Linked DNA regions of Homo sapiens: regions 1, 2, 3 and 5 are each linked to region 4. The links come from fine-mapping of genetic effects on gene expression. A gene starts in region 4. Each other region holds a variant in brackets. All regions are shown on one strand. Distances are between the middles of the regions.

Region 1 (5,857 bases), 30 kb after region 4:
GCCCCGCCCAGCACAAGCTCAGGACATGGAGGTGCCGGATGCAGGAAGGAGGTGCAGACGGAAGGAGGAGGAAGGAAGGACGGAAGCAAGGAAGGAAGGAAGGGCTGCTGGAGCCCAGTCACCCCGGGACCGTGGGCCGAGGTGACTGCAGACCCTCCCAGGGAGGCTGTGCACAGACTGTCTTGAACATCCCAAATGCCACCGGAACCCCAGCCCTTAGCTCCCCTCCCAGGCCTCTGTGGGCCCTTGTCGGGCACAGATGGGATCACAGTAAATTATTGGATGGTCTTGATCTTGGTTTTCGGCTGAGGGTGGGACACGGTGCGCGTGTGGCCTGGCATGAGGTATGTCGGAACCTCAGGCCTGTCCAGCCCTGGGCTCTCCATAGCCTTTGGGAGGGGGAGGTTGGGAGAGGCCGGTCAGGGGTCTGGGCTGTGGTGCTCTCTCCTCCCGCCTGCCCCAGTGTCCACGGCTTCTGGCAGAGAGCTCTGGACAAGCAGGCAGATCATAAGGACAGAGAGCTTACTGTGCTTCTACCAACTAGGAGGGCGTCCTGGTCCTCCAGAGGGAGGTGGTTTCAGGGGTTGGGGATCTGTGCCGGTGGCTCTGGTCTCTGCTGGGAGCCTTCTTGGCGGTGAGAGGCATCACCTTTCCTGACTTGCTCCCAGCGTGAAATGCACCTGCCAAGAATGGCAGACATAGGGACCCCGCCTCCTGGGCCTTCACATGCCCAGTTTTCTTCGGCTCTGTGGCCTGAAGCGGTCTGTGGACCTTGGAAGTAGGGCTCCAGCACCGACTGGCCTCAGGCCTCTGCCTCATTGGTGGTCGGGTAGCGGCCAGTAGGGCGTGGGAGCCTGGCCATCCCTGCCTCCTGGAGTGGACGAGGTTGGCAGCTGGTCCGTCTGCTCCTGCCCCACTCTCCCCCGCCCCTGCCCTCACCCTACCCTTGCCCCACGCCTGCCTCATGGCTGGTTGCTCTTGGAGCCTGGTAGTGTCACTGGCTCAGCCTTGCTGGGTATACACAGGCTCTGCCACCCACTCTGCTCCAAGGGGCTTGCCCTGCCTTGGGCCAAGTTCTAGGTCTGGCCACAGCCACAGACAGCTCAGTCCCCTGTGTGGTCATCCTGGCTTCTGCTGGGGGCCCACAGCGCCCCTGGTGCCCCTCCCCTCCCAGGGCCCGGGTTGAGGCTGGGCCAGGCCCCTCTGGGACGGGGACTTGTGCCCTGTCAGGGTTCCCTATCCCTGAGGTTGGGGGAGAGCTAGCAGGGCATGCCGCTGGCTGGCCAGGGCTGCAGGGACACTCCCCCTTTTGTCCAGGGAATACCACACTCGCCCTTCTCTCCAGCGAACACCACACTCGCCCTTCTCTCCAGGGGACGCCACACTCCCCCTTCTGTCCAGGGGACGCCACACTCCCCCTTCTCTCCAGGGGACGCCACACTCGCCCTTCTCTCCAGGGGACGCCACACTCGCCCTTCTCTCCAGGGGACGCCACACTCCCCCTTCTGTCCAGGGGACGCCACACTCGCCCTTCTCTCCAGGGGACGCCACACTGGCCCTTCTCTCCAGGGGACGCCACACTCCCCCTTCTGTCCAGGGGACGCCACACTCCCCCTTCTCTCCAGGGGACGCCACACTCCCCCTTCTCTCCAGGGGACGCCACACTGGCCCTTCTCTCCAGGGGACGCCACACTCCCCCTTCTGTCCAGGGGACGCCACACTCGCCCTTCTCTCCAGGGGACGCCACACTCGCCCTTCTCTCCAGGGGACGCCACACTCCCCCTTCTCTCCAGGGGACGCCACACTCCCCCTTCTCTCCAGGGGACGCCACACTCCCCCTTCTCTCCAGGGGACGCCACACTCCCCCTTCTGTCCAGGGGACGCCACACTCGCCCTTCTCTCCAGGGGACGCCACACTCCCCCTTCTCTCCAGGGGACGCCACACTCCCCCTTCTCTCCAGGGGACGCCACACTCCCCCTTCTGTCCAGGGGACGCCACACTCGCCCTTCTCTCCAGGGGACGCCACACTCGCCCTTCTCTCCAGGGGACGCCACACTCGCCCTTCTCTCCAGGGGACGCCACACTTGCCCTTCTGTCCAGGGAATGCCACACTCCCCCTTCTCCCCAGCAGCCTCCGAGTGACCAGCTTCCCCATCGATAGACTTCCCGAGGCCAGGAGCCCTCTAGGGCTGCCGGGTGCCACCCTGGCTCCTTCCACACCGTGCTGGTCACTGCCTGCTGGGGGCGTCAGATGCAGGTGACCCTGTGCAGGAGGTATCTCTGGACCTGCCTCTTGGTCATTACGGGGCTGGGCAGGGCCTGGTATCAGGGCCCCGCTGGGGTTGCAGGGCTGGGCCTGTGCTGTGGTCCTGGGGTGTCCAGGACAGACGTGGAGGGGTCAGGGCCCAGCACCCCTGCTCCATGCTGAACTGTGGGAAGCATCCAGGTCCCTGGGTGGCTTCAACAGGAGTTCCAGCACGGGAACCACTGGACAACCTGGGGTGTGTCCTGATCTGGGGACAGGCCAGCCACACCCCGAGTCCTAGGGACTCCAGAGAGCAGCCC[A/G]CTGCCCTGGGCTCCACGGAAGCCCCCTCATGCCGCTAGGCCTTGGCCTCGGGGACAGCCCAGCTAGGCCAGTGTGTGGCAGGACCAGGCCCCCATGTGGGAGCTGACCCCTTGGGATTCTGGAGCTGTGCTGATGGGCAGGGGAGAGCCAGCTCCTCCCCTTGAGGGAGGGTCTTGATGCCTGGGGTTACCCGCAGAGGCCTGGGTGCCGGGACGCTCCCCGGTTTGGCTGAAAGGAAAGCAGATGTGGTCAGCTTCTCCACTGAGCCCATCTGGTCTTCCCGGGGCTGGGCCCCATAGATCTGGGTCCCTGTGTGGCCCCCCTGGTCTGATGCCGAGGATACCCCTGCAAACTGCCAATCCCAGAGGACAAGACTGGGAAGTCCCTGCAGGGAGAGCCCATCCCCGCACCCTGACCCACAAGAGGGACTCCTGCTGCCCACCAGGCATCCCTCCAGGGATCCCTCATTGTCCACAACTGCTGGAGAACAGAGGGCTCCGTGTCTGGCTGTCCCACAGTGAGCAGCAGTGAGCGCATCTGAAGTCTGAGCTGCTGAGACCCCCTCCTGCAGGAACCCATCTTCTGGCAAAAACCTGAACTGAGGATCACCCTCTGCCCACACCCACAGGGGCCCATCCTGGTGGCTCCTCCAGTGCCAGGCTCTGCCCCATCAGGGTCTGGGGTCTCAGCCAGATTTGTGTCCAGGGCAGGGAGGCTGCAGAGGTTAGGTTGGGTCCAGCACAGGACAGGGCTGGAGAGCACAGCCAAGGAAGGTCGGGTCCGTCTCCTCCCCTCTGACCTCGGACGTCTCGCCTGTCAAATGGCGTGAGTTCGTATCCACCCCACGGGGTCGCCGTGAGGTGAACGAGACAGTCATTTTCATAGTCCGTGTGGAACAGGCACCCGCTGAGTGCTCAGGGATGGCCCTTGGCAGCCACGTGGAGGCCAGCGCAGGCCACCTGTTAGTGACTGTCACCATACCATGGGGGAGGGCAGCTGTGTTGAGACCCACCTCTCACCTCCGGACGCAGAGCCCCCCCTCGGACACCCACTGTGTCTCCAACTGCTCCGCACACAGCCGGCACTTGGCACCGGTGACGTCATGGGGTGGCTGCACACATCACAATAGGGCCCCGCGCAGGTCAGCTGGGCCTGGAGTCAGCGTCCTCCACCCCCTGAACTGGCAGCATGTGTGTGCACGTGTATGTGGGTGAACGTGTGCGTGTGTGTGTTTCTTCTCCAGCTAGGCCTGGCTGCCCCACTAACGTGCACACAGGTCCTTGTCACTGTCACCCCCGTGGCTCGAGACGATCGTCAGAGCACCCGCGGAGGCACCACACTCGGCCCTCTCCACCCGGGGTGGTCCTGGGGATGCAGACGCGGGGAGGGGGTTGGCCCCCTTCCTCGGTGGACTCAGGTCTTCTGTAAAGGGCTGGGTTCAGTGTCCCTCTGTCTCACCTTCTTGAGCCCTGCTGGGTGTCATGAATGTCCCCCCTTGCTGGAGGCCCTGCGGACAAGCCCCCCTGCCTGAGGTCCCCTAGCAGCCAGCTGACCAGGTCCCACTGATTGACAGGCCCTGCTGGGCTGCCGAGGGGGTGGAGGAAGCCTGTGGGGAGGTGGGGGACTCACCTGTGTGACGTCAGCTTCTGTCCCGGGCGCCGCCTGCCCGTCGGATCACATCCCTGCTCAGGACTCGCCACCAGCTGCCTCCTTACGATGGAGTGATGGAGCCCTCTGATAGCTGAGAGTCCGCCACAGCGATCCCACAAGGCCACGCGTAAACTCTCCCAACATCCATCCAGGGAGGCCTGGATAAAAATGTAGAGTTTCAGGCCGGGCACGGTGGCTCAAGCCTGTAATCCCAGCACTTTGGGAGGCTGAGGCGGGTGGATCACCTGAGGTCAGGAGTTCAAGACCAGCCTGGCCAACACGGTGAAACCCTGTTTCTATTAAAAATACAAAAATTGGCCGGGTGCGGTGGCTCACGCCTGTAATCCCAGCCCTTGGGAGGCCGAGGCGGGCGGATCACCTGAGGTCAGGAGTTCGGGACTAGCCTGACCGACATGGAGAAACCCTGTCTCTACTAAAAAAATACAAAATTAGCCGGGTGTGGTGGTGGATGACTGTAATCCCAGCTACTTGGGAGGCTGAGGCAGGAGAATCGATTGAACCCAGTGGGTGGAGGTTGCGGTGAGCCGAGATCGCGGAATTGCACTCCAGCCTGGGCAACAAGAGCGAAACTCTGTCTCAAAAAAAAAAAAAAAAAAATTAGCCGGGCGTGGTGGCGGGCGCCTGTAATCCCAGCTACTCGGGAGGCTGAGGCAGGAGAATGGCGTGAACCTGGGAGGCAGAGCTTGCAGTGAGCCAAGATAGCGCCACTGCACTCCAGCCTGGGGGACAGAGCAAGACTCCGTCTCAAAAAAACCAAAACTAAACAAAACCCTTACCCTATCGTTTTGCCAAGTGCATGACTCTCTGCTGTGAGGCAGTCAAACTCAGAAGCAGAAAGTAGGGTGGCCGTGGGCAGGGGCTGGGGAGGGGAGCTGGGAGTTGCTGTTCAACTGATAACAGATTTCAGTCTGGGAAGATGCGTGAGTCCCAGAGTTCACTGCGCAAGGTGCTCGTGGTTAGCACAGTGCCACACGGCACGTTGCAAATTTTTTTTTTTGAGATGGAGTCTTGATGTTGGCCAGGCTGGCATGCAGTGGCGCGATCTCAGCTCACTGCAACCTCTACCTCCTGGGTTCAAGTGATTCTCCTGCCTCAGCCTCCTGAGTAGCTGGGATTACAGGTGCCCGCCACCACACCCGGCTAATTTTTTTGTATTTTTGTAGAGACGGGGTTTCACCGTGTTAGCCAGGATGGTCTGGAGCTCCTGACCTCATGATCTGCCCGCCTCGGCCTCCCAAAGTGCTGGGATTACAGGCGTGAGCCACCGCACCTGGCCAGTCCCAAAATTTCTAACATTAGAAGATTGGTGTGTGTGCCTGTGCATTTTTGCTGAACAATATTTCTTTTTTTTTCTTTTTTTAGACGGTGTCTCGCTCTGTCGCCCAGGCTGGAGTGCAGTGGCGTGATCTTGGCTCACTGCAACCTCCGCCTCCCAGGTTCAAGCAATTCTCCTGTCTCAGCCTCCCCAGTAGCTGGGACTACTGGTGCCCACCACCATGCCTGGCTAATTTTTGTATTTTTAGTAGAGACGGGGTTTTGCCATGTTGGCCAGGCTGGTCTCCAACTCCTGACCTCAGGTGATCCACCCACCTGGGCCTCCCAAAGTGCTGGGATTACAG
Region 2 (5,988 bases), 64 kb before region 4:
CCGCCCGCCCCCCGGGCCCCACCCGCCCCCAGTGCGCCCTGACCCCGACCCCCGACCGCCCGCAGGGCCCGGCGACACTCAGACGGGACGTTCACCAGCGAGCTCAGCCGCCTGCGGGAGGGCGCGCGGCTCCAGCGGCTGCTACAGGGCCTGGTGGGGAAGCGCAGGTGAGGCCGGGTGGGGTGGGGGGTCCTGGCGTGGTGCCCCAGCAGCAACGCGCGACCCCCCAGCTCCAGGACTAACTCTGTTTTGGGGCGGGGGGCAGCGAGCAGGACGCAGAGAACAGCATGGCCTGGACCAGGCTCAGCGCGGGTCTGCTCTGCCCGTCAGGGTCCAACATGCCCATCCTGCAGGCCTGGTGAGCACCCGCCCCACCGCAGACCCCACTCCAGACCCCACCCCAGACCCCTCCTTCTGTCCTGGCCTCCCCGGGTCAGCGCTGGTGGCCACTGGAGGCCCAATTCCAGCAGCGGGGCCGGGGTCTCCAGCCCCAGCCCTCAGACCCTCACGTGCTGTCTCTGCAGGATGCCCCTGGACGGGACCTGGTCTCCCTGGCTGCCCCCTGGGCCTATGGTTTCAGAACCAGCTGGCGCTGCTGCAGAAGGAACCTTGCGGCCCAGATGAGGAAGGAACCCCCTCACCACCTGCCCGGCCCAGGAGCGCAGCTGCATTTGGGGTGGGGGGCAGGATGGGGGAGAGGGGGAGGGGTGGTACTTGGCACCAATAAAGGAGGAATCAGACCCAGACGCTGGGAGTTGTCTGTGTCCACTCAGTGTAATCGAGGCAACCCCTGTGTAGCGGGGCTGAGGGATGGATGGAGGCCCATCCACCCAGGAGGGACTGACCACACCCAGCTGCCCTTTACACCTGCAGGCACGGCGGCCCCTCATCCTTATCTCTGGCATCAGGGCCACCTCCTGTACCTCGACTAAGTACTGCAGGGCCCCGCCCCACCCCTTGTCATCCATTAGGAAACATTCTGGGGCTCGGGGGATCCCGGACACCCTCTCAGCTCCTGCCCGGGGGCCCATGTGGTCAGTGTTTCTGTAAGGGGTAGTGGGGAGGGTGTGAAGGGGCCAGGGGGGCTCAGGCGGGCAGGAAGAGGGGAGGGTGGAGGTGTCACCTGGGGTGCCAGGAATCCACTCTGGCGTGAGGACTCCGGACCCTCTGTCTCGTGTGGCCTCGGACCAGTGGCTTGACCCCTCAGAGCCTGTGGAGCACGGAGCGTGCAGGGCTTGAAGGCGACCATGAGGGCACCGTGCAGGGTTAGGACACTGAGCCCAGCCCCAGCCATGAGAGGCCAGAAGCTTCGGCGCACAGGCCTGGAGGAGGAGAACTCCACCTACCCCTCACGACAGCCACTTCCTCGCCCCGACCCTACCCAGTGGCCTCTCCCTAGAGCTGGGGGCTTCTGGGGGGCCAATGAAAAGAGCAGGGCAAGTGTCGAGTCTCACCTCACCCCCTCTGTCGGGCACCAGGGCCCCCCAGGAACTCCCAGCTGCCCCTCACAGCCCCGCCTTAGCCTCAGTCACTAAGGCCCTGTCCAGCCCCGCCCTGAGAAGCCGACTTGTCTCTGGGGCAGGCAGGGGTGTCCCCAGGACACAGTGAGGAGAGCCTTTTCCTTCAGAACCTGCTGTCAGGCAGGGAGGGAGGTGCTCCCTGGGGAACACCCGGGTTCTGAGCCTCAAGGGGTGGCCTTAGGAACTTTGCCTGAGGGAGATCTTAGGGGAGGAGCCAAGCCAGGGCAGCCTGGGCTAGGGAGGCAGGTTCCAGACACCCCGACACCAAGGGCCGAGCCCCCGCCCCCAGCCCCCAGCTTCTCTCCCACACCCTAGCCCTGCCCCTGCCCTGCCCCTACCCCCACGGCACCCATGAGCCGCTCTCCAGTCCCTTCTGCCCTGTGCCTCGGTGCCTGTGACCTGAGCCCCCTGGTTGACCCCTGCACTCAGTCCAACTTGGGCCAAACGACTGCCCCTCCTTCTGGCAGTGGGCTGGACCAGCCGGCCAGCGGGAGCCCCCTTGGCAGAAGCCGGTCGTAAAGGATCATAAACTGGGCGGCGTCTGGCTGGGGCGAAGGTCGCTGAGGTAGGAACTGCGCCAGTCCTAGACGCCAGACCCGCTCAGACCCTCCTGCCAGGTGACAGCCGCCAAGATGGGGTCTTGGGCCCTGCTGTGGCCTCCCCTGCTGTTCACCGGGCTGCTCGTCCGACCCCCGGGGACCATGGCCCAGGCCCAGTGTATGTGCGGGCAGGGGTAGGTGGGGCACGGGCGGCGGGGAGCCAGGGGCTGGGAGGCACTGATCCCTCCTCTGCAACCTTACAGACTGCTCTGTGAACAAGGACATCTTTGAAGTAGAGGAGAACACAAATGTCACCGAGCC[G/A]CTGGTGGACATCCACGTCCCGGAGGGCCAGGAGGTGACCCTCGGAGCCTTGTCCACCCCCTTTGCATTTCGGATCCAGGGAAACCAGCTGTTTCTCAACGTGACTCCTGATTACGAGGTGTGGGCGGCAGGCGGGCGGGATATGGGGGTCCCGGGAGAAGGGCACCTGCATCCTCAGGCCACACCTCCCTTGGGGGCCTAGGAGTTCTATGCCTGCGGGCATCCACTGACACCCATGCTTGGTGGTGCCTGCCCTAGAAGGCTGGGCCATTTCGGGATGAAGCTGCCTGGGCCCACACCCTCAGCACTGACCACTGATGATGGGGACCCTGGGCCAGCGCCTGCCCACTTGGCCTCAGTCTCCCCACCTGTGGGGCAGGACGGTGACTGCAGACCTGTCTACATCCACAGGAGAAGTCACTGCTTGAGGCTCAGCTGCTGTGTCAGAGCGGAGGCACATTGGTGAGTCCCCGCCCCGCTCTCCCCGCCCCACCCGGCCACCTCTGCTGGGCTCTGCCCTGCCGGTCCAGGACCAGTCTTTGATGACGTCAGCTAGGGTGTGGTTTCAAATTCCACCCCCCCGAGGGTGATGCCCACATTTCCTCCAGTCCAGACTCTGCCCTGAGCTGTGGAGTCCCCGTCACTGACCCCTTGTCCAGCAGACACCCCATCCAGTGTGCCCAAGACTCCCACCCACTCCCTCAACCATCCACAAGGGAGGCACCTTTATCCTGCCAGTCACGGGGACCACCTTGGTTCCCACTCGCCCTCCCTCCCCACGTGTCCCCCACAGCCCCCCACTGGTAAATCTGTTGGCTGTGCCCCAGCTCGACCCAGAAATCCAGAGTCTGTCCACCTCCAGTCCCATCAGGGCCGGGACACCAGCACTCATTTTGGGAAACTTCCAGCTGGCCCACCGGCTTCCCTGTTGCCCTTTGCTGGCCCCAGTCCACTCCACGTGGCAGAACAGCCCCTGTGGATGTTGTAAACCAAGGCTGCCCAGCCCACCCCAGCCCTCCACGGCTCCTTTCTCACCGAGTCAAACCCAGACATACTGTGCAGAGGCTCCACTGCAGCCTCAGGGCTCCCGCCAGGCACGCCCCTCCCTCACCGGCTCAGGACTGCAGTCTTCAGAGAAATCCCAACCACCCTATGCCCTGTTGCATCCCAGCCCCGCTCCCCCAACATCCTGCTTCTTGACCGGCGGCATTTTTTTCGGCTTTATTAAGGAAAATTGCAGAATCCTGAGGCCAGCACAGGCCCCCTCACCTACCAGCACACAGCAGGCTCTGTGCCCTCCATGCACCACGGCACGTCACCTGCACATATCTTGGGATATGTCTCTGAAAGAGAGAGACTCTTTTTTGAGACAGAGTCTCACTCTGTCACCCAGGCTGGCGTGCAGTGGAGCGATCTCGGCTCACTGCAACTTCCGCCTCCCGGGTCCAAGCGATTCTCCTGCCTCAGCCTCTTGAGTAGCTGGGATTACAAGCATGCGCCACCACGGCCGGCTAATTTTTGTATTTTTAGTAGCGACGGGGTTTCTCCATGTTGGTCAGGCTGGTCTCAAACTCCTGACCTCAGGTGATCTGCCCGCCTCGGCCTCCCAAAGTGCTGGGATTACAGGTGTGAGCCACCGTGCCCGGCTGACAATCCAGTTTCTTCACAAATAAATCTCCAGGAAAAAAGATGGGAGAAAGGGAAAGGTACAGATGAACAGAAACTCAGGAGAATTACCAACCAGGTCCATAATGTGGGCCCTGATTCAAACAAACAATTGTTAAAAAACCCTTCAGAGACCACGGGGAATGTGGCATCCTGGACATTTGAGGTAGAAAGTGACCGCTTTTCCCAGGTGTGACAACGACATTGTGGTTATGTTCTAAAAAGAAGAGTCCTGGCTGGGCGCCGTGGCTCACACCTGGAATCCCAGCACTTTGGGAGGCCGAGGCGGGTAGATCACCTGAGGTCAAGAGTTCGAGACCAATGTGGCCAAAATGGTGAAACCCCGTCTCTACTAAAAATACAAAAATTAGCTGGGCATGGTGGCAGGCACCTGTAATCCCAGCACTTTGGGAGGCCGAGGTGGGCAGAGGCCGAGGCAGGAGAATCGCTTGAACCTGGGAGGCAGAGGTTGCAGTGAGCCGAGATCACACCACTGTACTCCAGCCTGGGTGACGACAGAGCGAGACTGTATCCAAAAAAACCCAAAAACCAAAAAACAAAAACAAAAACCAAAAAAAAAAAAAAACAGAGAAAAGAAAATGGATTGTCTTTCCTCACCTGAGATTCTGCTGGCTGCATCCCCAAGTACCTGCATTATTTTTCTGTGGAGCACCTGCCACCTCCTGGCTTTATAAAGTCCTTTTTGTCTGTTGTTATAAGTCCTGCCAGGACAGGCACCACCAGGCAGAGATTTGTCTCTTGTGATCTCTGAATCCCAACGCCTAGAGCTGTGCAGCCCCTGTAGCCCCCCAACAACTGAATGAGCGAGTGGACGGATGGCCGTCGAGGGGTGCACCCCACTCACGGCGGGGACGGGTGGCCGTTGAGGGGTGCACCTCACTCACGGCGGGGACGGGTGGCCGTTGAGGGGTGCACCTCACTCACAGCAGGGACGGGTGGCCGTCGAGGGGTGCACCTCACTTAGGGCGGGGACAGGTGGCCGTTGAGGGGTGCACCTCACTCACGGTGGGGACGGATAGCCGTCGAGGGGTGCACCTCACAACGGGGAGGGGCTGTGGGAGAGGCTGACGGCCACATCCTGCAGGTGACCCAGCTAAGGGTGTTCGTGTCAGTGCTGGACGTCAATGACAATGCCCCCGAATTCCCCTTTAAGACCAAGGAGATAAGGGTGGAGGAGGTGAGGCCAGCGAAGCCGCGGGGACTGGGCACGGGGGTGTGGGAGCCCAGGGTGAGGGCAGGAGGTGAGTGGTGGCCGGGGGCTCAACCACAGTGGGGGTCCACAGGGGCCAAGAGTGTGGCCGGACCAAGCCCCTCTCCCTCCCCAGGACACGAAAGTGAACTCCACCGTCATCCCCGAGACGCAACTGCAGGCTGAGGACCGCGACAAGGACGACATTCTGTTCTACACCCTCCAGGAAATGACAGCAGTCAGTGCCGCCCACCCTGCCCCAGCACGAGCCCCTCGCCTCTGACACCCACAGCCGCCCTCGCCCTCCAAGGCTCTTAGGCTCTGTCCTCCCTGACCCTCCCCAGGGTGCCAGTGACTACTTCTCCCTGGTGAGTGTAAACCGTCCCGCCCTGAGGCTGGACCGGCCCCTGGACTTCTACGAGCGGCCGAACATGACCTTCTGGCTGCTGGTGCGGGTGAGCAGGTCACCCCAGCCCCGAGTCCCACACACTTGAGGCCCCCCGGCCCCAGCTGCTCCCAGGCCTGATCCAGCACAGCCGTCTGTTGCAGGACACTCCGGGGGAGAATGTGGAACCCAGCCACACTGCCACCGCCACACTAGTGCTGAACGTGGTGCCCGCCGACCTGCGGCCCCCGTGGTTCCTGCCCTGCACCTTCTCAGATGGCTACGTCTGCATTCAAGCTCAGTACCACGGGGCTGTCCCCACGGGGCACATACTGGTAATGGGGAGGG
Region 3 (5,988 bases), 34 kb before region 4:
AAGAAGCCCTAACCCCCAATGTGACAGCAGATAGACATGGAACCTTTAAGGTTATAGGATTGGTGTCCTTAGATGAGGGAAGGCCAGGTGAGGTCACAGCGGGGAGGCGGCCGTCTGTAAGTCAGGAAGGGGGCCTCCCCAGGAACCAGGCCTGCTGGTATCTCAGATGTCTAGTTTCCAAAACCAAGAAAAGGAAGACCTGCGGTTTACGCTGCCCAGCCTGTGGTATCCTGACAGCAACTGAGCTGGCTGCGACACACGACACACACCCACAGGCCGACAGTGGCTCACACTGAGCTCCTGCGGTAGGTGCTGCCTGTGGGGCCCCCTTCCCAGAGAGCTTGTCTCCCCCACCCTCACTCCCGGGTTTTCAAACATTGCACCTCACACCAAGCCACTGAAGAAGGCGAAGGTTTCTTTGCTGAAAGGAAACTATGTTTTAATTGTTTCTATCGAGCCTTCTGGGAAGGTAGTTTGGGAAGTGCTGCCACTGGTATGAGGTATATGTGCCCCTCCAAGCAGCCGAGGCTCGGGAGTCTATGCAAAGATCCTTGAAACTTCATCCCAAAGACCCCAGACAGCCCTGAGTAAGGCAAAAACAATCAAGGGAAGGGAGTCAAGCTGATGATTTCCCTGAAAATTGAGCCTGAATTCAACTGAACTTAACTACCACTTACCACGGGCTGAACTGTTCTAGGATCTAAGATACGAGTTAAACAAGAGTAAACCCATTCTCCCAAGAGTCCTGCACCTATGAGAAGGTGTCTGCTGTGTGGCCCTTGCTAGGGCCATACAAGAAAGACAGGAGACAGGCATGCAGGAAGAGAAGCCGACTGCCCCGGGCACACGACACGCCCTGCCAGGCCAGCAGAGGGGGGCGGCGGGTGGGGGCACTCCAAGAGCCTAACTAGGTCCCCTAACATCTGTTCTTATACAAGTTCTCTGGGGACAAAGGCAAGGATGAGCAGTACCTTCTTTCAAAGAATTCCAAAGTCTGAAAACGTCCAACCCACTTTCCCACCACTGAGCTCCAGCAGCCTTGGAGGAGGCTGCGGCTCACCTGAGGCCCGAGCAGAAGGCCCCTCTGCGCCTGGCAGGCGCCCATCCACAGCCAGGCCAGGCCTGTGTCCCCCACACTCATCCCCGAGAAGAGGAGATTGGCTGCAAGTTTAAATACGAGCACGGGGACAAGGAGGGCTGCCGAGACCTGCCCAGCTACGGTGCAGGCACCCATGGCTCCACCTGCACAGGGAGCTTGGTGGCCCTGCAGCTGAAGGTGCTCAGATCTGACCTGCCCAGGGAGGGGAGGGCCACACCTAACAGGCCTCAGTGAGCCCCTGCACTGCCTCCCTGGTGAACACACACTTTTAAATTAGATTGTAACTTAAAAAAGAAAAAAATCAGAAACTGTATCTTATTTCATGTAATGTCAGTGTATCTACAGATAGTGTTTTTTTGTTTTTTGTTTTTAGTCTCTCTGGAGTGCAGTGGCGCAATCTCGGCTCACTGCAACCTCCGCCTCCCAGGTTCAAGGTATTCGCGTGCCTCAGCCTCCCAAGGATCGGGGGTTACAGGTGTGAACCACCACGCCCGGCCAATTTTTTTATTTTTAGTAGAGACGGGGTTTCGCCATGTTGGCCAGGCTGGTCTCGAACTCCTGAGCTCAGGTGATCCACCCGCCTCGGCCTACTGTGATTCCATTTTGACATGAGGAACTGAGTAATTTTAGACGTGTGATTTTTAAGTCAGACTTAACTGAAAATTTGGCAGACTGCAAATTGTAACAGTATGGAAATGTTTAGAAGTATGAGAATCGTTATATTGATCAGTTTTAATGTTTTAGATCCACCAGGGTTTTTATGTACTTGCGTTGTTTTATCTGCCAAGTAATTCAAGTAGTGTAGGTAGAAAGAAAATCAATATATCAAGTTTGTAAATGTAATTTATAATAAAAAATTTTAATTAAGCTGTAAACATTCCCAAGAGCCTTGTTAGAAGGTACTACAACTAGGTTGGGCATAGTGGCTCACGCCTTTAATCTCAGCACTTTGGGAGGCCGAGGTGGGCGGATCAATTGAGCCCAGGAGTTCCACACCAGTCTGGCCAACATGGTGAAACCCCGTTTCTCCATAAAATACAAAAATTAGCCAGGTGTGGTGGCATGTGCCTGTAATCCCAGCTACTGAGGAGGCTGAGGCAGGACAGTCACTTGAACCTTGAACCGAGGTTGCAGTGACTCGCTGCAGAGGTTGCAGTGACTCGCTGCAGAGGTTGCAGTGAGCCAAGATGGCGCCACTGCACTCCAGCCTGGATGACGGACCAAGACTCTGCCTTGAAAAAAATAAGTAAATGAGTAAAATAAAAGCTAACAGGAAAACCAGGCTTTGTGCGTGAAAACTGGCCTACCAGCTGCCCTCGAGCCACTAGAAGGCTCACGGCCCTGGCCTGCGATGAGGGCCTTGCCCAAGACGGTGCCTGTGGCGACCAGGACCAGGTCTATCATGCCATGGTCTCTCAGGCCGTGTCCAGCGATTCCAGGCCAGCCCAGGCCCTTCCTTCACATGCCCAGAGTGGCCGCAGCCACAGGTAAAGAGGACAAAAGAGGACCAGTCCTACACATGGGCATGGAGTGCTGAGCCACCCCTCCACCTTTTTTTTTCTTTTTAAGCATTCTGCATATATTCACGGTGTAAGTCAGTAATCAACAGCCAATAAGCACTGTGCCCAGGGCTGCAATGACCAGGCTGCTGGGATAGTCAAGGCAGCAGCCCTGCCCTTCAGACTCACAGCAACCAACTCAGTGCCTGCCGGGGCAACTGGCAGCAGACGCTCCCAGGAACCCTGAGGAGGTGAGGACCGTCAGGGCAGAGCACTCAGGAAACTCACAAAACATGGATTTAGGCTCAGACTCGTGAGAAAGGAGGGACGGCGAGGTGTCTGCGAATGTGAGCAGAGGCGTGGCTATCTCCCGGCTGCTGGGAGCAGAGGGCAGGACCAAGCAGGGGCTGGGGACCTGGAAGGGCCGGCGGAGCGCACTGCAAGGCCCCTGTACTCCCACAGGCCATGAGGAGGAGGGCGAACTGACGATGAGACAAACGTGGTGGCCGCCTGCAGGACCCCCAAGGAGGCCCCTGCAGTGTCTGCAAAAGGACAGCCAGCGATTCCTGCACCAACAACAGCGTGAGTGGAGCAGAGGCCTGGGTATGTGGCTAACAACGAGGTGACAGGTGGGGGCACAAGCGGCTGTGCTCAAGGACGAGTCAAAGCTGGGACGACCGGGACCACCCGCCACAGAGCAAAGGCCTTCACCAGGAGCCCATCCTCGGTGCGGCTCCAGCCGCGGCACGTCAAGGCCTCCTGGCTCCGGCTGTTCCGTAGTCCAAACCCTGACCCAGCTACTTCCCACCCAAGAGAAGGCCCCAGATCGAGCAGCCTCACTGGTTCTTTCAACAAGGGAAAGATTTCCAGAATCCTCTCTCCATAATTTCACAGCAGAAAAATTATTCAAATCAACAGGGAAAGCCCCTCGCAGGAGGCTAACGGGGAAGGGGGCATCTGCTTACAGCCAACGACACAAAGCAGGGATGAGGAGACAAGTGTCACAGGCTCCCGGGAAGCCAGGGCCACGCAGGGCCAGAGCAGGCGCTCTCAGCTGTGCCAGGGAGAGCAGCAGGTGCAGCATAACTGGACATGCACCAGAGGGTGAAGGAGGAGCAGGGTGAAAGGTGA[G/C]GGACCAAGGCAGCCAGAATGATGGACGCAGGCATAGCCACCCCTCCCCCACAAAGGCCGGGACCAGGACACGTCCCACCCTCTGGCTGACCAGCCCCACAGCCTCCTGTCCGGCTGTTTTCTTTTTTGTCTTGATGTATTACCTGCACTTCTGTGGGCAGCCTCAGAATGTTTTTTGGGGAAAGACTGAAGTGTAAATGAGTGTAACAGGAAGGCCCGCAGGACTGAACCGCGCTGCTGAGGGTGGTGAGCACAGCTCCAGGTGCTGGGACTCAGACTTCACAGAGCGAAGAGGCTCTGCATCCCTCCTGCGCCTGGCCCGCCTTGCACGCAGCAGGGCACGTGTGCCAGTCCCAACCGTCCCTTACCCCGCATCGCAGCCGTCGCAGAGCAAAAGCCTGTCCTCACGGTCGCTCCTGCCGCACACCTCACAGAAGGTCGGGTCCTCCTCCTCCTCGCTCGCTTTGGTGTTCTCCACTGGGATCTAGGACAGAATCGTCGGTCACCACCACACAGGACCCAAACTCCCCGCAGTCACTTCCCAGCGTGAAACGCAGTTAATCCAGAATCCACCCATTGCCTTAGATTCATATTTGGGCTCCACAGGCCCAGAGGGTCTCCCTCCACGTGTACACAGGGATTTTTATGTTTTCTACCATCTCAGGGTGGTGATCTAAGAGGAAAGTATTCAACAGAAAACAAAGTATGATGCACGGAAAGGAGCGGGTAAGCCCTGCGGCCCCAAAGTGGGCCGCAGTAGGGCGAGGCAGCAGGTGCTGGACTGCCACGGAAGAGCAAGATCTGCCTCTTAAAAAAAAAAAAAAAAAAGGCTGGGCACGTTGGCTCACGCCTGTAATCCCAGCACTTTGGGAGGCCGAGGTGGGTGGATCACGAGGTCAGGAGATCGAGACCATCCTGGCTAACACAGTGAAACCCCGTCTCTACTAAAAATACAAAAAATTAGCCGGGCGTGGTGGCGGGTGCCTGTAGTCCCAGCTACTCGGGAGGCTGAGGCAGGACAATGGCGTGAACCCAGGAGGCAGAGCTTGCAGTGAGCCGAGATTGTGCCACTGCACTCCAGCCTGGGCAAAAGAGCGAGACTCTTGTCTCGGGAAAAAAAAAAAAAAAAACAGCCGGGTGTGGTAGCTCATGCCTGTGGACCCAGCTACTCAGGAGGCTGAGGCATGAGGATTGCTTGAGCCCAGGAGATTGAGGCTGTAGTAAGCTGTGATTGTGCTACTGCACTCCAGCCTGGGTGAAAGAGCAAGATGGTGTCTCAAAAATAAAGAGCTCCGAGCAGACGGGCCAGAGCACTGCTCCCAGATGTGATGGGTACAGGGGTGGGGTCGAAGGGATATCCCAGGAGCTGGCAATATCTCTGCCTCTAACCCCCAACCCAGACCCCAAACCCCCCAGACAGGGCTCATGGCCACAAGGGGCACTTGAGTTGATTTCTATGAAGCATTTAACCAACCCTCATTTCAGGAGAGCAAGCCCACTTTGGAAAGCATGCTCTGTCCCACAGGGCCGGGATAGAAGCACGGCTGGGGCCTCCACGGCAGCGTCCACACTCACCTTTCTTAAGATTTTACCACCAAATTGAGCTCGAATACAAATGCACTTAAATAGAGTTCGATCAACTGGACAGGAATTGGCATTCTGTGAGAAATAAAAACAGGATCAGAATCTTGTCAATCACTTTCACTTAGAGATCAAAAATTCTTTTACACTGAAAATCAAGTATCTGCTAAATGCCTCCATGCGCCAGGCCCTCCACTAAGCTGCTGGCAACACGGCAGTGGAGGGAGCACAGCGAGCCTTGCCTCCCTGCAGAGCTGCCAGCCCTAGCGGGGAGGAAAGAGCAGCTCCATGAACGCGTAGCATCTCAGTGACAAGTAAGAACAATAAAGGGAGGAAGGACAGGCGTGGGGGCGGCATTGTGCACAGGCCCCTCTGCGGCGAGCCTGTTCAAGTCTTCTGCTAACTTTTCCAAAAGATTGTTGGACATTCACTAGTAAATTTTTAGAATTTCTTTTCATAGGCCGGGAGCAGGGGCTCATACCTGTAATCCCAGCACTTTGGGAGGCCGAGGCAGGCAGATTACCTGAGGTCGGGAGTTCGAGACCAGCCTGACTGACACAGAGAAACCCCGCCTCTACTAAAAATACAAAATTAGCTAGGTGTGGTGGCGCATACCTGTAACCCCAGCTACTCGGGAGGCTGAGGCAGGAGAATCGTTTGAACCCGAGAGGCTGAGGT
Region 4 (5,079 bases):
CCTGGGCGCCCACTGGACACTCTTGTGGCAGCAACTGCCGCTCCTTCTCCCGAAGCCGCTGCACAAGCACAAAGCGGCCAGTCTGGCCTGGGAAGAAGAGGAGAAGGTCAGCCTATGTCCCCCCGACTCTCTGTCCACCTGGCTTGAAGAGTTGGGAAGAACAAAAAGGATCAGCAACCAGCCCCACTCTCCTTGGGGGAGACCATGGAGCTGGACCACCAGGTCCCACTTCAGCTCTACCTGCCCGGCCTGCCTGACCCCGAGAGGACTCACCTATTGCTTGGGCTAGTGCGATGACCACTTCCTGGCAGGTGGTCTGCTCTGAGACCCCACAGACCACACGCTGGATGCCATCCACCCACACCTTCAGCTCCATGGCCGCCAGTCCCAACAACATGCCTGTCCTGTGGGGAGGGCGCAGGCACCGGGTCAGGACCTGCCTACTCCTATCGCAGGCTGGTCCTCCTCTCCTCATCCTCTTGGCCTGCCCTAGAAACGGCTGGGCTGCCGCCCCTCCGCACGGGCCCCACCCTCCTGTGCCAGCCCCACCCGCCAGCCACACATTCCTGGGGTGGCGGCCCTCCGGAGCACGCATCCTCCCCCACTTCACCAGCTTCCTCTTGCCACGCTCGCACTCCCGGAACAAGGCGAATCATTAACCAGATCCAGCATTTCCTACTCGCCTCACCTGGCTCGGAGGACACTGCCCCCTCCCCGGGCGGCGCGGAGGCGCCCGCACGCCAGGCCCCGCGGCCGCCGGCATGGGAACGCCCCACCCCGACCTGCTCAGGCCGCAGAGGCGCTCGGGGTCGCAACCCAGACCTCGACCCTGCAGATGGAGCAGACTCCGGGTCTGAGCAGCCCCCGCCAGCCCGGGGAGCCCCGCCGCTGCCGCCTAATCGCTGCGCTCGCCCCGAAAGTCCCGGTCCCCGCCGCGGGCACCGAAGCCCGCGCCGCGACCCCAGCCTGGCGGGAGCCAGGGCGTCCCCGTTCCGCAGGGCGGGCGCAGGTGCGGCGCCGCCCCCGCTCTCCGTCCGGGCATCGCGGAAAACTCTCCCCAGTTGGAGTCGGCGTCCGGCCGGCTCGAGGCGCGCCCCGCGCTCCCAAGTACCGGGGACCCGGCGCGGCTCACCTGGGCGCTCGCCAGCCTGGAGACCCGCTCCGGCGCCGCCGCAACCTGCCGCCCCCAGCGCCGCGGCGCACCCGGGCCCCGCGCCCCCATTGGCCCGCGGTCCGCACGCCCCGCCCCTAGCACCCCTATTGGCTGCTCAGCGCGGGCGTTCCGCCCCCTCCCCGCGCCCATTGGCTGCCTCTGTCACGCCCCTCCCCGACCCATTGGCTCGTCGCCGCGCCCCGCCCCCCCCGAGACTACAGGTGTGGGCGGGTCGGAGGGGGGCGCCGAGCCGCAGTCCCCGCCCCCACCTCCCGCCTACCGCGAAAAACGCGGAAATGCGGTGGCTGCGGCCCGCGGGCAGGCGTCGGGGTAGGTGTCTGGCCCCGCTCCTGGGCCGACTTCCTCAGCAGCCTTCTAGTGTGGCGGGTTCCCGCCCAGGAAGGGTCTCTGGCTTGAGATCCCGCAACCCCCGCCTGCGTCCAGGGGCAGCGGGGCCAGCCCCTCCCCTCGCTTCCCGGGCCAGCCTTTGGGGCCTACCGCAGCTGCAGTAGTCTGGACGCGCAGGGGTCGCGGGGTCGCAGGGTCACCAGTCCCGGCGAGGGAGGTGGAGCCCTGCGGAGCTGGCGGGCGCAGAGTCCTGGTGCGGGAGGTGCCCGCTCAGAAGGCCCGGACTCTAGCTGAGGCTCTTCTCCGACACCTTCCTGCCCCTTTTGGACCCAGTGCCAGGCCATGCACACAGTGAAGCTGGCTGGAAGCCGCTCCTTCACCCCCTACCCTACTGTCCCGCCCAGGGCCCCGCAGCCTCGCGGTCAGCTGTGTGGGCCATTGATTGTTCTGCCCAGCTCAGAAAGAGTTGTGGGCGTGGGCCTCCTGCCCGCCTGTCTCCTGTGCTCCCCCAGGGAGCCCTTACATAGCCGAAAGTTGCAGAGATGAAGGGTGAAAGCTGGAATGATTGGGTTTTAATGGGTCAGGTCTGGGACCTGGCTTTTCTCCTGGAGCAGAGGGAATACTTGTCATGGTAATGGGGTAGCCCAGAGGGTGTGGACACGGCTGGGAAAAGTGAGGCTTCAGTTTGGGGGTCAGGTAGGTGAGTGCCTGTCACTGAGGTCAAAGGAGCTGTGGGCTGGGCCTGGCGGTGGAGGCGGGTGCCTGTAGTTTCAGCAAGTCAGGAGGCGGAAGTGGGAGGATCACCTGAGCCCAGGAATTCGAGGTTAACGTGCGCTGTCATCACACCGAAGCATTCCAGCCTGGACAGCGGAGCAAGACCCTGTCTCTAAAGAATTAATTATTAATTTAAAAACAGGCTGTGGGCAGGAGTGTACTATTGCCAGTTAGCGTTCAGCACAGTCCCCAGCTTGTCACTGTTACCTGTCTGCTTCCCCCACACACCCATGGCTATGCTGGGCTGGCTCACAGGCAGCAGTGCCCCCCTATTTATCCCGCTGCTGCTGCCAGGCTAGGTAGGGGATGCTGGGGCCTCCCTCAGGGTGTTGGTCACTAAGTGGTCCCCCCGCTAAGCTGAGCAGTGGCTCAGCCTCTCACACCTCCTCCAGGCTGGGCTGGCCCAGAACTCACCTAGGGGCCTGGTCTGGGGTCTCCCTGGAGGCTCCTGGTAACAAACAGCCCCACCCCTTCTGGGTGCTGGTATCCATGGCAACGGTATACAGCCCTTCCCTCCCAGGCCTGCTTGGAGGTCGGGCCTCAGGTGAGTGCTGGGGGTAGGGCCCTGAGCTGGGGGGACAAGAGAGAGAAAGAGGGACACCACATCACAGGCAAAGGGCCAGCACCTGGGTGGCAGGGGTACACGCCAGGGACATGTCGGGTGGTGACCTGCTGCGCCAGCCTGGTCAGAAACACACGGGTGTGGACACCCACATGTGGGTCCCTTCAGAGAGCAACGCTCTGTGAGTAAGTGGTGACGCCTGGGCTGCTCCAACCTGTGTGGCCACACGAGGCGCACACGGCAGACGGGCCCCCCACCCCTCCCAGCTCCCGAAGAACATTGAGAATGGCCCCCAAGTCTGGCCAGGAGGTTGAAGAAACCGAGGAAGAGGCTCTCCTGTCCCCCACAGAGCAAGAGTCGGTCAGTGGTCACCTGGGACCTCCAGCAGGCGCACCTGCAGCCCCCGAGACTCCCACGTGCCTGCCAGACACCACGCCCCACCCCGCACCGGTGGTCTGCTCTGCCGACCCGCAGTAAGGAGGAGAGGGAGGACTGGTGAGCCTCCTGGGCCAGGTGGCCAGGGGCCGGCCTGAGTAAGCAGCAGGGTCTGCTGCCGCTGCAGGTTGGCTCTTGAGTCCCTGGACCCTCGCACACTGCGGCTGCTGTGGAGACAGCGAGAACTGGAGATCCAGGCCTTGCGGTGGGCCATCCAGAATGGCGAGGACGCCCGGCTCTGCCACATCCTGGAAGAGGTGGCGGGGCTTCCGCCCAAGAGGTCTGCAGCACAGTCCCCAGCCCAACCCAACCCCGCCCTGTCCTCGCCCGGACTCCTGGTTTCTGTCTGACCCCAACCCCAACCGCTGAGGCAGATCCTTACCCTCATCCTTGCCCGCGCTGACCCTCCACCCTGATCCTAAGTTAACACGCTATAGCCTCCACCCTAACCCTGCGCATGTGGATGGGTGCTAGACCCTTGTCCAGACCAGCCGGAGGCTGGCCAGCCCCAGCGGGGCTGTACTGTGTGCCCTTGGGGCCAAGGTGGCAGTGGAGCCCCTCCTTCTCCCCTCCTTCGCCACTGACCTGACATTAGGAACCCCTGCCTGAGCAGGGTGGGGGCTGCTGAGGTCACCCCTCCTCCAGGAGCTCCCACAGTCAGGAGAAACTCCTGCAGAACCAGGTCCAGAAGCTGATCCAGGAGTTGAAGGAACAGAAGGAGCGAGCCCAGTGGGTGAGGCAGGGGCACAGGGAGTGGGCAGGGTCCTGGTGTTGGGGAGCCAGGCTGGGGCTGGCCTGGGGGCCTTCTGCAGAAGACACCCCCCCACCACCAACCACAGGCCCTCTCGGAGCAGGAGAAGGAGCACCTGGAGGAGCGGCTGCTGCAGACCACCCGCACGCTCCAGGAGATGGAGGCCGAGCTGCAGAACTTGCAGAAGTCCTGCCTCCTGCAGCTGGCCCGCTCCTCGTGGGTGGGCCGCATGCTACGATCCCAGACTGGCAGTGTGGAGGTGAGCCTGTCCCCCAAGCCCTCCTGCCCCAGGCTGCCCTCCCCAGCCCTCCCCATCTCGTCGGGTGCCTCTGCTGGGGCGCCCTGGCCTGCCTGGAAGCCTGCCCTGCTCAGGTGCCTCTGGAACTCTGGGCTCCAGCAGGGAGGAATCAGGAGGCCTCAAAGCACAGGTGAGGTCAAAGAGGAGAGGTGCTGTAGGGGAGCACCCAGCCCCTGCCCACTGGCTTCCGGTCCCCTCTTGCAGGTAGTGACGGCAGAGACTCTGATGGACCCAAGCGACCTCTCTGAAAACATTCAGGCCCCCACCGGGGAGGTGAGCTAGGCCTCCCACGTGTGTGGTCTGGTATCTGGAGCCCTGCGGGAGGGGAGGACCATGTGCCTCTTGCTTCCTGGCCAGGGCTTTCGGCTGGAGGACGTGGATTGGAACAGCGTTGCCCGCCGGTATCCCAACCTCTTCACCAACATGGAGCCCAGCTCAAAGCAAAAGTAACTGCACAGAGCAGGGACTCCCCAGGGGCCAGAAGGGAGGGCTCACCTTGGCAAGTGAAGACGCAGGACACTAAAGGACCATTTAGTGTCCCTGGATAAGTCTCTTAAACCTTCCAATGCGCGTTCTCTGATCTGTAGAATGCGTTGGGGTTGAGGCAGCCATCACTGTCCTGCCATGAACTGAGCCTGGGTACTGGGAGGCAAGAGGGGCTCCCTGCTGCACTGCCTTGTGAGGCTGGACGGGGGCAGGGCTGGGGTCTGGAGCTGGAGTGGCCATCAAGCAGAGCGTGGTCCACAGGCAGCCCCGGC
Region 5 (5,988 bases), 110 kb after region 4:
AGCATCTCCCAGATACAGCACAGGCTCCCATTCACATGCAGAATCCCAGGAATAAACGCAAAGCTCAAGGGATGGGGTGAGCAGCCTGTGTCCCACCAGCACCAAGTTCCACAGCACACAAAGACAGGATCACACACTAACACAAGTTAAAATTGAAACTTGACTTCTTTTTTTCTTTTTGAGATGGAGTCTTGCTCTGTCACCCAGGCTGGAGGACACTGGCGCGATCTCTGCCTCCCAGGTTCAAGCGATTCTCCTGCCTCAGCCTCCCAAGCAGCTGGGATTACAGGCGCCCGCCACCACACCCAGCTAATTTTTGTATTTTTAGTAGAGACCGGGTTTCACCATATTGGCCAGGCTGGTCTTAAACTCCTGACCTCGTGATCCACCTGCCTCGGCCTCCCAAAGTGCTGGGATTACAGGCGTAAAACTTGACTCCTTTAATACGACTTTCCACGACAGAGACCTTCCTGTGGTTTCTAAAGTGGCCACCAACCCAACACTCACTCCTTGTGTAGCCCAGGGAAACGCTGATCATTGATCAACCCTAACCCAACACCATCTTTCCATTTCCCCAAAACACAGAGATTACCTGAAATATAAAGGTAACCCTTCGCCCCTTCAGGTAAATGTGCACACTGTCATTGAGGTGGCCACCGAGTGCCCAGCACCCTCCTGGCCCTGGGGAAGCAGAAATGGGAATGAAGAGGACCCAACAGGAAGGGAGGCAGAGGGTAAGGGACCCAGAGAAAGGGCACCAGGCACAGCAGCCCTGCAGGAGGACACATCTCAGAGCTGCTCAAATCCAACGCTCCTGGAAAGTAAGGTCCGTATTAGTGAGCTCCAGTCCTTGTCCTACACGCAGCACGACGTCTACACATCTTGGAAGTGACAGAGTGCCGCTCAAGATAGCATGAGACTCTCAAGGGAAGAATTCCGTGTCCCTCCCAGGACGCCAGGTCTGTTCAATGGCTCCTCCCACCCGCCTGCAGACTCTGCAGGACGGTGTATGTCCTGTGATCAGACACAGAACAGAGCTGTGATCAATCCTGGCAATTCAGCCACTTCACTAGGGTGAGGGCGTGAAGACAGCTGGCTCCCTGCCATGGGGAGTGGAAAAGACCCAGCTGCCTCCTTGGAGATGGTCACTCTCATGTCCACTCTCATGGTGGGCAGGGAGGCCGAGACCAAGAGGAAAACGCGGCGTCGTCGTCCAAAGGGCCAAGGAAAGGCCACGCCTGGATGGGCAGCCCAAGGCCTGCGAGAGGCTCCTGGACCGGGCACTGGCCCTTCTGGCTCTGACCAGCAAGACCAGAAAGACTTCATCTGGCTACTCGCGCCTCCCAGGTGTAGGCAAAGCTGGGAAAGCCCCGATCCAGGATGATGGAGAAAGGCATCTTCCAGAAACCTGGGGTATCTGAAGGTCAGAGGTCACCTCACACATAAAGTCCTCAGGTCACTGAGAAGGCTCATTTGAGGCACCCCATTCCAAGACACAAGCATACAATAAAAACTCTCAGAACATCACAGTGGCCCCCAGCTCGGGAACTGGTTAGCAAGTGTGGTCATCCGAAGCTGCTTCAGCGTCTCCCACAGACAGGCGGCAACGTTCACAGGCACCTCGCCAGGGTAAGGGGTCCCCAAGTGTTCTCCCAAACAATTTCCAGACCGCATGAGCTGCCACATCTTCGCACAGGGCTTCTCGGAGTCTGTGGATCTAAACGTTTTCCTCTGGATGTTCCCCATAATTGTCCTTGCTACCCTGAATGAATCCAGAGAAGGAGAGCTCAGCCTCGTGCTCCCAGGGCCAGTCAAGCCCTGAATCGAACCGCACGCCCTATCCCTATGGCTGACAAGCAGTCACAGAGAAACAAAATTCACACATGGCCGCCGTCACTGGCCCGAGGAAGTGCACCCATCCTTGAAAATGAACGCCCTGGCTGGATGTGGTGGTGCATGCCTGTAATCTCAGCAATCTGGGAGGCTGAGGCGGAAGGATCACTTGAGGCCAGGAGTTGAAGACCAGCCTGGGCAACACAGGGGGACCCTCTATTAAAAATAAATAAATAAATAAAAATGAATAAAAAATAAAAAGTAAAACTCTCTAAAACACAAAATTAGAGTTAAAAAAATGCCAGCACAGCAAGTCAGTGCAGGTGGACTCAGGAGGTCAGTGTGAGGCTCTGCAGGTAATGAATTCTCACCAGGCAGGCATTGAGTTACCTGCCACCCAGAAGCGTGAAGCTCCTTCCTCTGCACAGGGAAGGGAGGAGGCACAGCAAGAACCTGCCCCATGCGTCTCTACAGGGACAGGGTCGAGGGGAAAGCCAGAGCCAGAGCCACCCACCCAGAAGACCCAGGAAGGAGGTACCTGGACCAGCCAGCCCCGCTGCACCCGCTCCTGGAGAGCCCTCCTGACCCCCTTGGCCTCCTGACAGGCAAGCTCTGCTGCGCCCAGCCGTCTGTGTCCCAAACACCCCTTGTGGGCAGGGACCACTGGTCTGGGCTTCTAAAGAGACCGGCCCCCTCCTACCTTTGGGCTGCTGCTCCTGCTTCCCTGGTACTGGGTGGGCTGCGCAGGCTTGCATGTGCCCCCTGGCTCCTGCCACACTCAGCACCCAGCCAGCACATTTTGAGCCTTCTGAAGTTCCATGCCTGCACCAGAATCTAAGCTTCTTGTTTAGTTCTCTGCTATGTCCCGTAGAACGGTAACTGACAGGCAGTAGGGGTCCCCACAATGTGCTGAACGGCCAAATGAGAAACAAGAAGAGCCAGTCTGGTCTCCTCGCTCCGGGACCTCAGAGGAGCCCGTCTGTTCTCCTTGCTCCGGGATGTCAGAGGAGCCCGTCTGGTCTTCTTGCTCCGGGACCTCAGAAGAGCCAGTCTGGTCTCCTTGCTCCAGGACCTCAGAGACTCCGGTGGTCCCCAGCTGTGCTGCGGGAGGACAGCCTGAAGGGGTGTGGCAGGGCACCTGATGGAGAGGCCTGATGTCCACAGGGCCCGGAAGCCAGAGGGTCCACGTGGCAGGCACCCCATCTCCTCTCCCTCCCGAGGGCCCCGCAGCCACCCGGTACACTCATCTCCCCAAAGGA[G/C]AGCTCGGATGCCCTCCCTGCAACAGCAGCTGCCCACACCTCACGGAAGACCCTGCGTGGGGCCTCCTCCACCCTAACCTGCTTTCCCACCACTTGGACAGTCTCTCTCCAGAGCTTCGGCTGCGGTGACAGGCCAGGACCGGTTAAGTCCCTGTCTGTGGTGGCGCCTTCCCCTGACAAGTCCCTTACTCCTCCATCAGGCCCTCCTCGCCCCTCAGATTTGCTCTCCGACCATCCCACAGCATGGTTCTCTTGGAAGCGTCCATAAAGCCTTCCTTCCACTGCTGGCCGCAGGCGCCTGTCTCCCACACGTTTTCCTGGGGCTGACCCCACCTCTACTGCCCCTGTGCCCCCGGGCCTTCCACAGGATGGGAACTGGGCACCTTGCAGTCAAGAAGAGCCAAACCCTCCTCTCACGAAGCCTGCTTTCAGGTCGACGGCTTGATCCTTCTCACAGAGGAGCATCGGCAAAGGGCCAGCCCAGGGTCGCAGCTGTCGGGAGTAGGAGCGGCACCTGGAGCCTGTCTGGACACAGAGTGCCACACTCCAGCTGCTCCCGGGGGCCTCTTCCTTTTCCACCCCCATTAAAGGCAGAGTGGCGGACAGGGGGACCCCAAGGTGTAGCTAGGGCTGAGTTGTGCAGGGAGGAGGCGCTGGCCCCGCTAGGGGCAACTGAGGAGAGAAACAGAGCCTGGATTCGACGAACACCGACTACATTCCTGAAGCACGCACAACACTCTGCTAATCAACACGATCGCCACGTGGGGTCGGGCGCGACACACAAGATGATTTCGTGCAGCCGCAAGCACTGAGGAGCAACCACAGGCAGAATGACGGGGGACACAGGTGAAGCTTCGACAGCAGGACAGAGAAAGCGTTTCTGGGGTGACGCTGGAGGCGGGTGGCGGGGAAGGGGTCTGGATCGCAGAACCGCGCGGTCAGAGCCAAGGCGGGCAGGGGTGGGGAGGGCGGCGAGAGAGACGCAAAGCGGCCGCAGGGAGGGTCTGCCCAGGGTCTCCCCCACCTACAGCGCCGCCCTCCGCCCGACCCGGCGTCGGGAGCTCGGTCCGGCCGCTCCCCGGGACCCGGGGGGCGGTGCTGCCACACCCTCAAACCCCCGGCCACAGTCCTGGACTCCAAGACGGCGAGAGGGCGCTGCCGGGGACCCCCAGGCCAGCGGTGCCGGAACCCCCAGGTCGAGGGCACCCTCGCCGCCCCGCGGCCGCCCACTGCCCTCACCAGAAGAAGGTGTTGGTGCCGTCGTCGTAGACCTCGGACTCGGTGCTGCGGCGGCCCTCGCCCGGCCCGGTGGCTTGGCCGGCAGACGGCCCGTCAGGCGGCTCCTCCAGCGAGGCCCTGCCCGCGGGCACCGGGGACTCGGGCCGCGGACCTCCGGCGTCCCTGCGCTCGCCCCTCCGCATGGCGTTTCGGCCCGGAGCCACTCCGCCCGGCGCCTCGACCCCACGCACACCGGGTCACCGGCGAGAGGACGCGCCGCACACAGCGCGAGGAGCGCTGGGAAGGGGTCGCGGCGCTGGCCCGCGGGGTCTTAGGAGAGCAGCGCGGGGCCGGCCAGTAAAGGGTGTGCGGTGCATTGTGGGGCTTGTAGTCCGCGCGGGGCATGCTGGGCCTTGTGGTCCGACGTCGCGGGTTGGACGCAGTGCTTGCTGGGAAGGATGACGCCTGGTTGCTGGGAAACCGGAGCCGGACCGCCCTGCGGCTGAGGTCGCAGGAACCAAGCTGCGGATGGCGCGGGTCTCGCCAAGGCCTCCAGAGCTTGGAGGTAACCACAGACATCCCCGGCGGCCTGGCCCGAGTCCCTCCACCCCTTCGCCCCTTCCTCGCCGACGGATCCCGGAGCCCAGCCCCGTTCTCCTTTTGGGGCGCTTCCCGACCCTTCACCCCATGCGACCCGGGTCATTCCTTTTTGAGACGGAGTCTCGCACTGCCGCCCGAGCTGGAGTGCAATGGCGCGATCCCGGCTCACTGCAACCTCCGCCTCTCGGATTCAAACGATTCTTCTGTCTCAAGCTTCCCGAGTAGCTGGGATTACAGGCGGCCGCCATCACGCCCGGCTAATTTTTGTATTTTTAGTAGAGACGGGGTTTCACTATGTTGGCCAGGCCAATCTCGAACTCCTGACCTTGTGATCTGCCGCCTCGGCCTCCCAAAGTGCTGGGATTACAGGCGCGAGCCACCGCGCCCGGACCGGTCTGGGTCATTCTTTCGCAGGATCGCGTGAAATTGGGCGGGCGAAAATGGTGCGGACACGCTGATTTTAGTTGACCCAAATTGTTGACATGGTACCCTGCAAAAAAATTAGCTCCTGAGCCACTCTGAAAAGCAATGTGGCAGCTCCTCAAACCTGGAAACAAGTGTCCACGCCAAATTTACACACTAGCGCTCCTAGTTGCAGCATTTTGATAATAGCGGCATGTTATTAGCCATAGAGGAGCGAAGCATGCGCATGCTACAGCACAGCTGGACCTTGAAAACATTATGCTAGGCAGGCCGGGCGCGGCGGCGCACGCCTGTCATCCCAGCACTTTGGGAGGCCAAGGCGGGCGGATGACTTGAGGTCAGGAGTTCGAGACCAGCCTAGGCAAAGTGGTGACACCCCATCTTTACTAAAAATACAAAAATTGCCCTGGCATTGTGGCGGGCGCTTGTAATCCTAGCTACTCGGGAGGCTGAGGTGGGAGAATCCCTTAAATCCGGGAGGTGGAGGTTGCAGTGAGCCGAGATTGTGCCACTGCACTCCATCCTGGGCGACAGAGCGAGACTCCGTCTCAAAAAAAAAAAAAAAAATGCTAGGTGAAAGAAGCCAGTCACAGGAGACTACGCATTATGTGATCCATTTGTATGAAATGTCCAGGAAATGCAAATCTATGAAGAC

Evidence for each region.
Region 1: its variant is fine-mapped to the expression of LMNTD2-AS1 in whole blood (TOPMed, PIP above 0.99).
Region 2: its variant is fine-mapped to the expression of LMNTD2-AS1 in sun-exposed skin (GTEx, PIP 0.96).
Region 3: its variant is fine-mapped to the expression of LMNTD2-AS1 in tibial nerve (GTEx, PIP above 0.99). The same link has a PIP of 0.9 or more in gastroesophageal junction.
Region 5: its variant is fine-mapped to the expression of LMNTD2-AS1 in whole blood (TOPMed, PIP above 0.99).

The regions. Positions count from the first base shown.
Region 1 is chr11:526,677-532,533 of GRCh38, reverse strand. It overlaps HRAS (HRas proto-oncogene, GTPase), which reads left to right. Exons shown (of 6, transcript NM_005343.4): 6 at 12-292. It also overlaps a transcript of LRRC56 not described here. Among named protein-coding and RNA genes, the nearest start is that of HRAS, 6.0 kb to the left of the region's middle. RefSeq lists an enhancer at 3,492-4,029. The variant A/G (reference allele first, on the strand shown) is at 2,567.
Region 2 is chr11:621,067-627,054 of GRCh38, reverse strand. It overlaps CDHR5 (cadherin related family member 5), which reads left to right and starts at 2,100. Exons shown (of 15, transcript NM_021924.5): 1 at 2,100-2,237; 2 at 2,323-2,498; 3 at 2,792-2,842; 4 at 5,151-5,243; 5 at 5,392-5,493; 6 at 5,600-5,710; 7 at 5,805-5,975. The coding sequence starts at 2,153. It overlaps SCT (secretin), which reads left to right. Exons shown (of 4, transcript NM_021920.4): 2 at 66-167; 3 at 266-358; 4 at 525-746. The coding sequence ends at 624. RefSeq lists a silencer at 1-246 and an enhancer at 1-340. The variant G/A (reference allele first, on the strand shown) is at 2,381.
Region 3 is chr11:590,784-596,771 of GRCh38, reverse strand. PHRF1 (PHD and ring finger domains 1) reads right to left here. Exons shown (of 18, transcript NM_001286581.2): 5 at 5,305-5,388; 6 at 4,098-4,213. Among named protein-coding and RNA genes, the nearest start is that of PHRF1, 17 kb to the right of the region's middle. RefSeq lists an enhancer at 772-1,271. The variant G/C (reference allele first, on the strand shown) is at 3,730.
Region 4 is chr11:557,087-562,165 of GRCh38, reverse strand. It overlaps LMNTD2-AS1 (LMNTD2 antisense RNA 1), which reads right to left and starts at 2,904. Exons shown (of 2, transcript NR_147607.1): 1 at 2,690-2,904; 2 at 2,060-2,387. LMNTD2 (lamin tail domain containing 2) reads left to right here and starts at 1,428. Exons shown (of 14, transcript NM_173573.3): 1 at 1,428-1,483; 2 at 3,187-3,310; 3 at 3,400-3,552; 4 at 3,918-4,005; 5 at 4,127-4,282; 6 at 4,526-4,594; 7 at 4,679-4,767; 8 at 5,069-5,079. The coding sequence starts at 1,450. It overlaps RASSF7 (Ras association domain family member 7), which reads right to left and starts at 1,196. Exons shown (of 6, transcript NM_003475.4): 1 at 689-1,196; 2 at 274-404; 3 at 1-87. The coding sequence starts at 397. RefSeq lists enhancers at 1-393, 4,655-5,079.
Region 5 is chr11:448,981-454,968 of GRCh38, reverse strand. PTDSS2 (phosphatidylserine synthase 2) reads right to left here and starts at 4,690. Exons shown (of 12, transcript NM_030783.3): 1 at 4,332-4,690. The coding sequence starts at 4,513. RefSeq lists enhancers at 1-42, 4,626-4,905, 4,504-5,190 and silencers at 4,006-4,095, 4,106-4,165, 4,356-4,595. The variant G/C (reference allele first, on the strand shown) is at 3,093.